Homo sapiens: one gene and its partner. The protein of the gene in region 2 purifies or fractionates together with the protein of the main gene of each other region. This does not show direct contact. Each region holds a gene or a part of one and is shown on either strand. Other genes may lie near its edges.

What was found.
Region 1: the proteins of CCDC71 (region 2) and MAP1A purify together in Homo sapiens (affinity purification with mass spectrometry; one large-scale study listed by BioGRID and IntAct). This does not show direct contact.

The regions. Positions count from the first base shown.
Region 1 is NC_000015.10:43,529,860-43,532,111, forward strand, and holds the end of MAP1A (microtubule-associated protein 1A), read left to right. Parts: coding exon 1-11; intron 12-209; coding exon 210-365; 3' UTR 366-1,752; downstream 1,753-2,252. UniProt on the Homo sapiens protein: Structural protein involved in the filamentous cross-bridging between microtubules and other skeletal elements.
Region 2 is NC_000003.12:49,163,532-49,167,789, forward strand, and holds the start of CCDC71 (coiled-coil domain-containing protein 71), read right to left. Parts: upstream 2,801-4,258; 5' UTR 2,736-2,800; intron 730-2,735; 5' UTR 678-729; coding exon 1-677.

The DNA of each region.
Region 1 (2,252 bases), on a different chromosome or scaffold from region 2:
AGAATCTTCAGGTGAGTAGCAAAGGACACCAAGGAAGTAGTCTGGTCAACGCTCACTCAGAGGCAGTAGTGGAACACAGTCCCTATTTATTAAAGGATGGGCCTTTTCTAAGGGCAGCAGAGCTGCTTCTGAGACCATGAGGTGCCCCTTCCCCCTCACCTACCTTCCCTTTATGTTCTCACATCAGACATATCTTATCTCCCTTCTAGGTGACTCTGATCCCTACTCATGACACGGAGGTGACTCGTGAGTGGTACCAACAAACTCATGAGCAGCAGCAACAACTGAATGTCCTGGTCCTGGCTAGCAGCAGCACCGTGGTGATGCAGGATGAGTCCTTCCCTGCCTGCAAGATTGAGTTCTGAAAGAGCCGCCCTCCCTTCCCCAAGGATCCACTCCCCCAGCTCCTTTAGAGAATGGCTACTGCTGAGTCCTTTGGGGTTGAGGGAGATGGGAGCTAGGGGGAGGGGAGGGAGATGTCTTGTTGTGGGGACTTGGGCTGGGCTAAATGGGAGGGGTTGTCCCTCCCCATCATCCATTCCTGTGAGGTGTCTCAAACCAAAGTTAACAGGGAGAGGATGGGGGAGGGGACAAATTAGAATAGGATAGCATCTGATGCCTGAGAACCCTCTCCTAGCACTGTCAAATGCTGGTATTGAATGGGGACTGAGGATGGGTCTCAGAGAGCAACCTCCTCCCTCGTAGAGGGAGATTATATCCCCAACTCCAGGGACCTCTTTATCTCAATCTATTTATTTGGCATCCTGGGAGGGATTTCCAATAGTAATTTATGTGACCTGGGGCAGGATACCGTCAGTGAGGTGCCCAGAGCTGCACCCTTTCCTCCATTTCCCATCCCCCATCTCCTCAACCACCAGGGTCTGAGTTCTAGCAGGGTCCTGGGGGTATCCCACTGCTATACTGTTCTACTGCTTCCCTCAGTATCTGAATGTCTCAATTTAAAACTTGAAGCTCTTTAGACCAATAGACTGGTGAGAGGAGAAAGGAGCTTATCCCCCAGACCCTGCTTTATACCATTCACATCCCAGGGCTGTGTCCAGACAGCACAAAACGGCAAGGAGAGCCCAAGCCCCAATGCCAGAATTCTTCCAAACTCCCTGACTCTTTGAAGTTTTTACTCACCCCATTTCAATTATCCTGATCCCTTCTCATCCCCTGCTTGGCTTCTCTGCATGTGGTCATCTGCTGTGGCTTGGTGTTTAATGGGTTAAAAATAAGCCACTGCCTGACATCCCAACATTTGACACCCCAGCAATGTGTGACTCCCCCAACATTCCACTATGCCATCCTGCAGCTGAAATGGGAACACTGGCTGCCTCTCCAAACCCGCTCTTGGACAGAGGATCTGGGAGGTGGAAGCCAGGCCAGAGGACTTGGGGAAAATGAGATGGAGGAAGGAAAAAGGGAGAAGCTGAGCCACAGCTTAACTCCTACAGAGTGAAATGAAAACGGGCTGAAAATACCACCCCAGGAGAGGACCTCGCCCCAAGCAAGCCAGTGAGCAGCCCTGCCAGACTACTGCCAGACTGAGAAACCCAGAAGCTGGTAGTCATGTGGGCTTGCCTTCTCTGCCAAACGACTGGGAAACCAAAATGAGCCCACCTTGTGTTCTTCCTAGCTCCACCCTCCCCGTGCTGCTGTGTTCTGCTCCTCCCCACGCTTCCCTGCTATAGTTCCCAGCTGCTGTAACGGAGCCACCTCCAACTCTAACAATAAACCAAGTTCATTGCAGATAGTGTAGTGCTGCTTAGGCTTTTTCTGACTCCATACATGCTTAGTTACTGGGCCCTGGCTTCTACCTCTCTGCTTCAACCAGTATTGAATTTATCTTGGAAGACTCCAATGCTTTTGATTACTGGAAACACTTGTGCCTGAGTATGAAGAATAGGAGCCTAGGGTGGATACATACATCTGGTCTGGGGGAGGGAAGAGGGGCAGAAGGCCTCCTGGGAAGGGGATATGCATTCCGTGGGGTCAAGAGTTGAGGACCAAATAACCAGGATCAGCTACCCTGGACAGCCTCTTGGGCTAAAGGGGTAAAAAGCTGAAGGACCCTAAGAGATCCAGAGCCTAATGAGGTTGGAAACAACTCTCCTTGTGCAGTCAGGATTTCCATGGAGTAAAACGGTCGACTTTCCTCCTCCATGGAAACCCTTTATAGTCCTAAGTATGTCAGAAGTGGCCAGGTTATGAATGTGTATATTTGGGGAGGGGCATATTCTAGCCCTCCC
Region 2 (4,258 bases):
TTGGGCCGAGGGTTCCCCGGACCCTTCCCTGAACTTTTCCGCAGTTTCAGAGGAGAGTCTGCAAGTGAGAGCTGCAGTGACTGTGCCTTGTGCTTGGCACCCAAGCAGGGCATGGGAGTCTTAAGTGGAACCAGGGCCTCAAGGACAACAGAGAGCCGCATGGCAGGGTAGACACCTGGATAAAGGTGGGTGGGGAAGCCCACTGCTGCACCCCGGGCATGGCTGGCACTTGATTGCTTCAGAGAGCTCAGCAGCAGGTTGGTGGTAGCATGCTTGGCAAGGGCTGGTGTGGATGCTTTGGCCAGTCTGCCAGATAGCGGCATGGGAAGCAGTGTGGCCCGACCTGCAGGCAACCGCATGGCAGTTCGGGGAGCACTGGCTGGAGGTGATGTGGCAGTTGGGTTAGGGGCACGAGCTTGCAGTTTCGTCTGGCTTGGGGGATTAGCTGTGCATGAACTATAGCCATAGACATCACCACTGCGCAGGATGGTAGGTTGGAAGCCATCATCTCGCAGGCCCTGCAGGAAGGCCACAAGCTGGGCCTCTGTGGCACTGAGATCCTGGCTCATTGGGTTAAAGACAAGCAGTGCCTCTTCCAGGGCCTTCTTCCCTGCCGTGGAGATGCGCGACCAGGAGTGCACAGCTTTTTCCTCCACATGCTGAACCACCACACTCATGGCATTAGGCACTGCAGATCTGCCTGGGTATCCGCAAACCAGCGCTTGGCACCTCCAAGACAAGAGGAAAAGAGTCAATAAGAATGGCACTAAGACAAGGGGCCAGAACACATAGACAAGTCAATCAGTGCCCCAATCTCCATGACACTGAGGAATCTGGCCAGAGTGAGACACTTCCTGGTGTAAAACCCTGGTCTCCTGACCCTCTACCATGCTGGGGTGGGAGGAGAGGCTAAGGATCAGGGAGTTTCTTCAAGATACATGCTCAGAAATACCTCAGAGCCATCCAACCTGCTGCCGGGTCCCTGAAAAGATTTGAGCCTGGTACATTTTAATTCAACTCTGTATTTTCTGAAGCCAGAAACCTAGAATTACTCAGCTCTGGGAATACAGGCAATATCCCTGTCCTCAAGGAACCTAGGTTAGAAGGCCAGAAAAAGACACTGTTAAGATTCTTGGGAGTGAATGCTGGCATTCAGCTCAGTTTGCCAATGGGTCAGGAAAGGATTCCTGGGAGAGACAACACCTAGCTAGGATATGAGTGATGAATGAAAAATGATTAGATGGAAATGGAACAAAAAGGGGAATAGCTAATGCAATGGCTCCAAAGTGAGAAAGGGTTAAGGCATACTTGGTGTGGGATCTGGGATCTAGGTGAAAAAACAGGCGAGGATAGAGCAACAAAGAACCCTGAATGTTAGCCAAAGGGCCCAGACTTACACCCACTGTCCATGCCCATCTGTTTCTCCAGCTGCTGCTGTTCATGTGTGGAGCTGGAGTGGGGTGGGGGAATCTCCCTGCCCACCAGAAGTTCTGTTTTCAGTCTCTAGACAGGGTACTCAGCAACCCATTTTCTAGCTCCAGAGGCATGGAGACCTAATCAAGAGTCGGACTTTTCTTCAACAGAAACTAAAAAGCTGATGAGTAGCAGGTGCCAATGACATCTCTCTAGGCAACCAGGCAGACCAGGGACCAGGAAGCCAGACCAAGATCCCAAAGTTTAAGGACAATGGGAGCCAAAGGCTGCAAGTAGGATGGTGAGTCAAGGGGACATTAGCGGTATGCACTGTCCTACCTAAGACTTGGAGGGCCACAGACCTCAGTACAGCCCAGATGGAGGTGACTGAGAACACCTAACTACTCCCAGACTTCTTTAAAGAAGCTGTGGACATCAATCATAACTAACATCTAATACCCAACCCAACACTGAGGGTTCCCAGAAGCAAGAGGCAGCTCCCCAGCTGCACCAGAGCATTAAAAGATCAGCCAGGATCAGGCAGGTCCCTCGGGCCATGAGGCCCGTCTGTGTAGTTTCTTCCCACCGCTCTAATGCAGCAGATGAAGTCTTCAGAATACCCTGGAGGAAATGCCCTAGGGCTCTTTGTTTGGAAACATTCTTGGATCCTCAGGTGTCTTGGGCACTTCCCCTCCCCAGAGACCGTTCTCCAAGCACAATCCTTGCACATGACTTTAGTTCTTTATTAATGTTTTTTGAAGGGATGTAGTTCCCAGAGCTGTGAACTGTAGAAGAGAGAGGGACCTATTTCCCACCCTCACACGCGCCCCAGCGCAAATATTTGGGGTGACCTGGGGGCTCTTCCACCCAGGTTAGGCTGGGCTCTTGGGAGGGGTTTTCTGGGCTTTCGAGAAGCTTCGGAAACAGAGGCTCCTGCCCGGCCTCCGACTTCCCTTCACACGTGCCCCCGGGGAAGGCAGGAGAAGTTGACGGAAGATAGGGCGTGAGAGAGGCGCCACACAGGCAGACCGGGGGAGGGGGCAGATCGGGGCCCTCAGGCTGGGAATGCACGTCCTTAGGGCCCAAGCCGTGAGGCGGGGGTCACTGAGGCAGCGAAATGTACAGGGTGAACGGTGCTAGCCCTACCGGGACCGCACAGCCCCAGGGTGGGGTCGCTGGGCGCGGGGTGGGGGTGGGGTGGGGGGTCTCGGCCAGGCCGGCGGAGGACGCGGGTCCGGGAAGAGTTGGCCGCTTGCCCGTCCGCCCTGCCGCCTCGCGGGCCGCCCCTCCGCGGCGCGGCTAGGCCCGCGGCTCCAACCTACCGGCGCCGCCGCGGGGACCCAAGACGCGCCTCTGCGCCGCCTCCGCTGCTCCAACATGGCCGCCCGCTGCGCGCCGGAAGTGCACTGCGCTTCCGCTTCCGGGACCCAGCCCGCCCTACCGACCCTTGACCCCTGAGACCCCATTTCCCCACAAAGTCTGGGGGCGGAGCAGATTGGGTACCAAGGAGGACTGCCTGGAGGTGGTGGCCGCGGTGACTGCTCCAAACCCGTTCGGCCCTGTGCAGAAGTCTGAAGAACAGAGGTGCCCTCTGACGCGGCCCCAGGCAAGGACTCACTAGAGCCCGGCCAAGACTGGATTAGGGGTCATCTGACACCTTTTCTGAGGGGAGCTAGTGGTGCATTGACATCTGGGAGGGGCTCCTGACAAGGTTCAGGCCATCTTCCACCCTCTGATCTATCTTTAGCCACTGACAATGCCCACTTCAGTCCCAGACACCTGACCAGAGGGTGAAAGAGGAGTGCCTCCTGACAGGGAGTCTCAGGTGATCTCCTTTGTTTTGCAGTAAGGGTATCTTCTCCGAGGACAGCAGGCCTTCCTCTCTTCCTGAGAATAGGGCCTGTGGCACATGGCATGAAAGGCTGGTGTGCACGTGATCACAAGTGGTGCACGCAAGCCCAAGCGCACATGGAGTCTGGGGGCTCCAGTATACCACTGTGGGCCTGAGTATACTTGCTCAGGCAGGTGGGGGCAGGTATAGTCACTGGCCCAGCCTCAGCCCCTCAATGGAAGGAAGTCCTGCTTCCAGTCTTAACACTGCCCAGAACCCCTTTCCTTTTGCCTAGGAGTCTGGGACCTCAGTCTTTTTATCCATGCTCTTGGGCTAGTACGGGGTGGTGGTTATAGGACACAGGTCAAAATCAACCCTAGGGGTCTGTGACTTCAGTGAGAGGTCAGAGTGGTCTCCACAGCTCTGACCAAAGGTCCCATTAGTCAGAGGTTTGCAAGTCCAGGTTGGGAACCATCCTGGGAGCCCTGGTTTCATGGATGAGGTAGTGGGGGCATTTGCACTAGGGTCAGAGCCTGAGCCAGGAGGCAGAAATATTGCCACAACTCTTGGACTCTGACCCTTGCAGTGGTGCCTTATTTGGTAGTTGGGGTCAGGTGGAAGCCTATTGGCAATCACAGGAGGGTGGCGGGATGCTTCATTTAGGGACTGGGTACTAGCCCTTTTTCCTGCCCTTTTTCCAACCAGGATCCTCTGGTTGCTCTGTATTTTCCCTGCTTATACAGAGGGGTCCAGGCACTCCTAAAGACAAGTGCCTAGTCCACCCAGCAGTGCCATAGGCCTCATCTGGTGCCTCTTAGCTTCCCAGGGCCTCAGCACTAATGGTGAGGTCCTCGCTGCTTTTAAGTATAGCCAAGGTATCTAGCAGGAACTGCAAAATCTCCTGTTCCTCTGGGGTCAGTGCTTCTAGCCTTTTTTTCCTGGTGGAGAGAAAGCAAGAGTAGGGTCCCAGGGGCCAGGATCTCATGGGGTGCAGTCAGGAAGCCCCACCTTGGT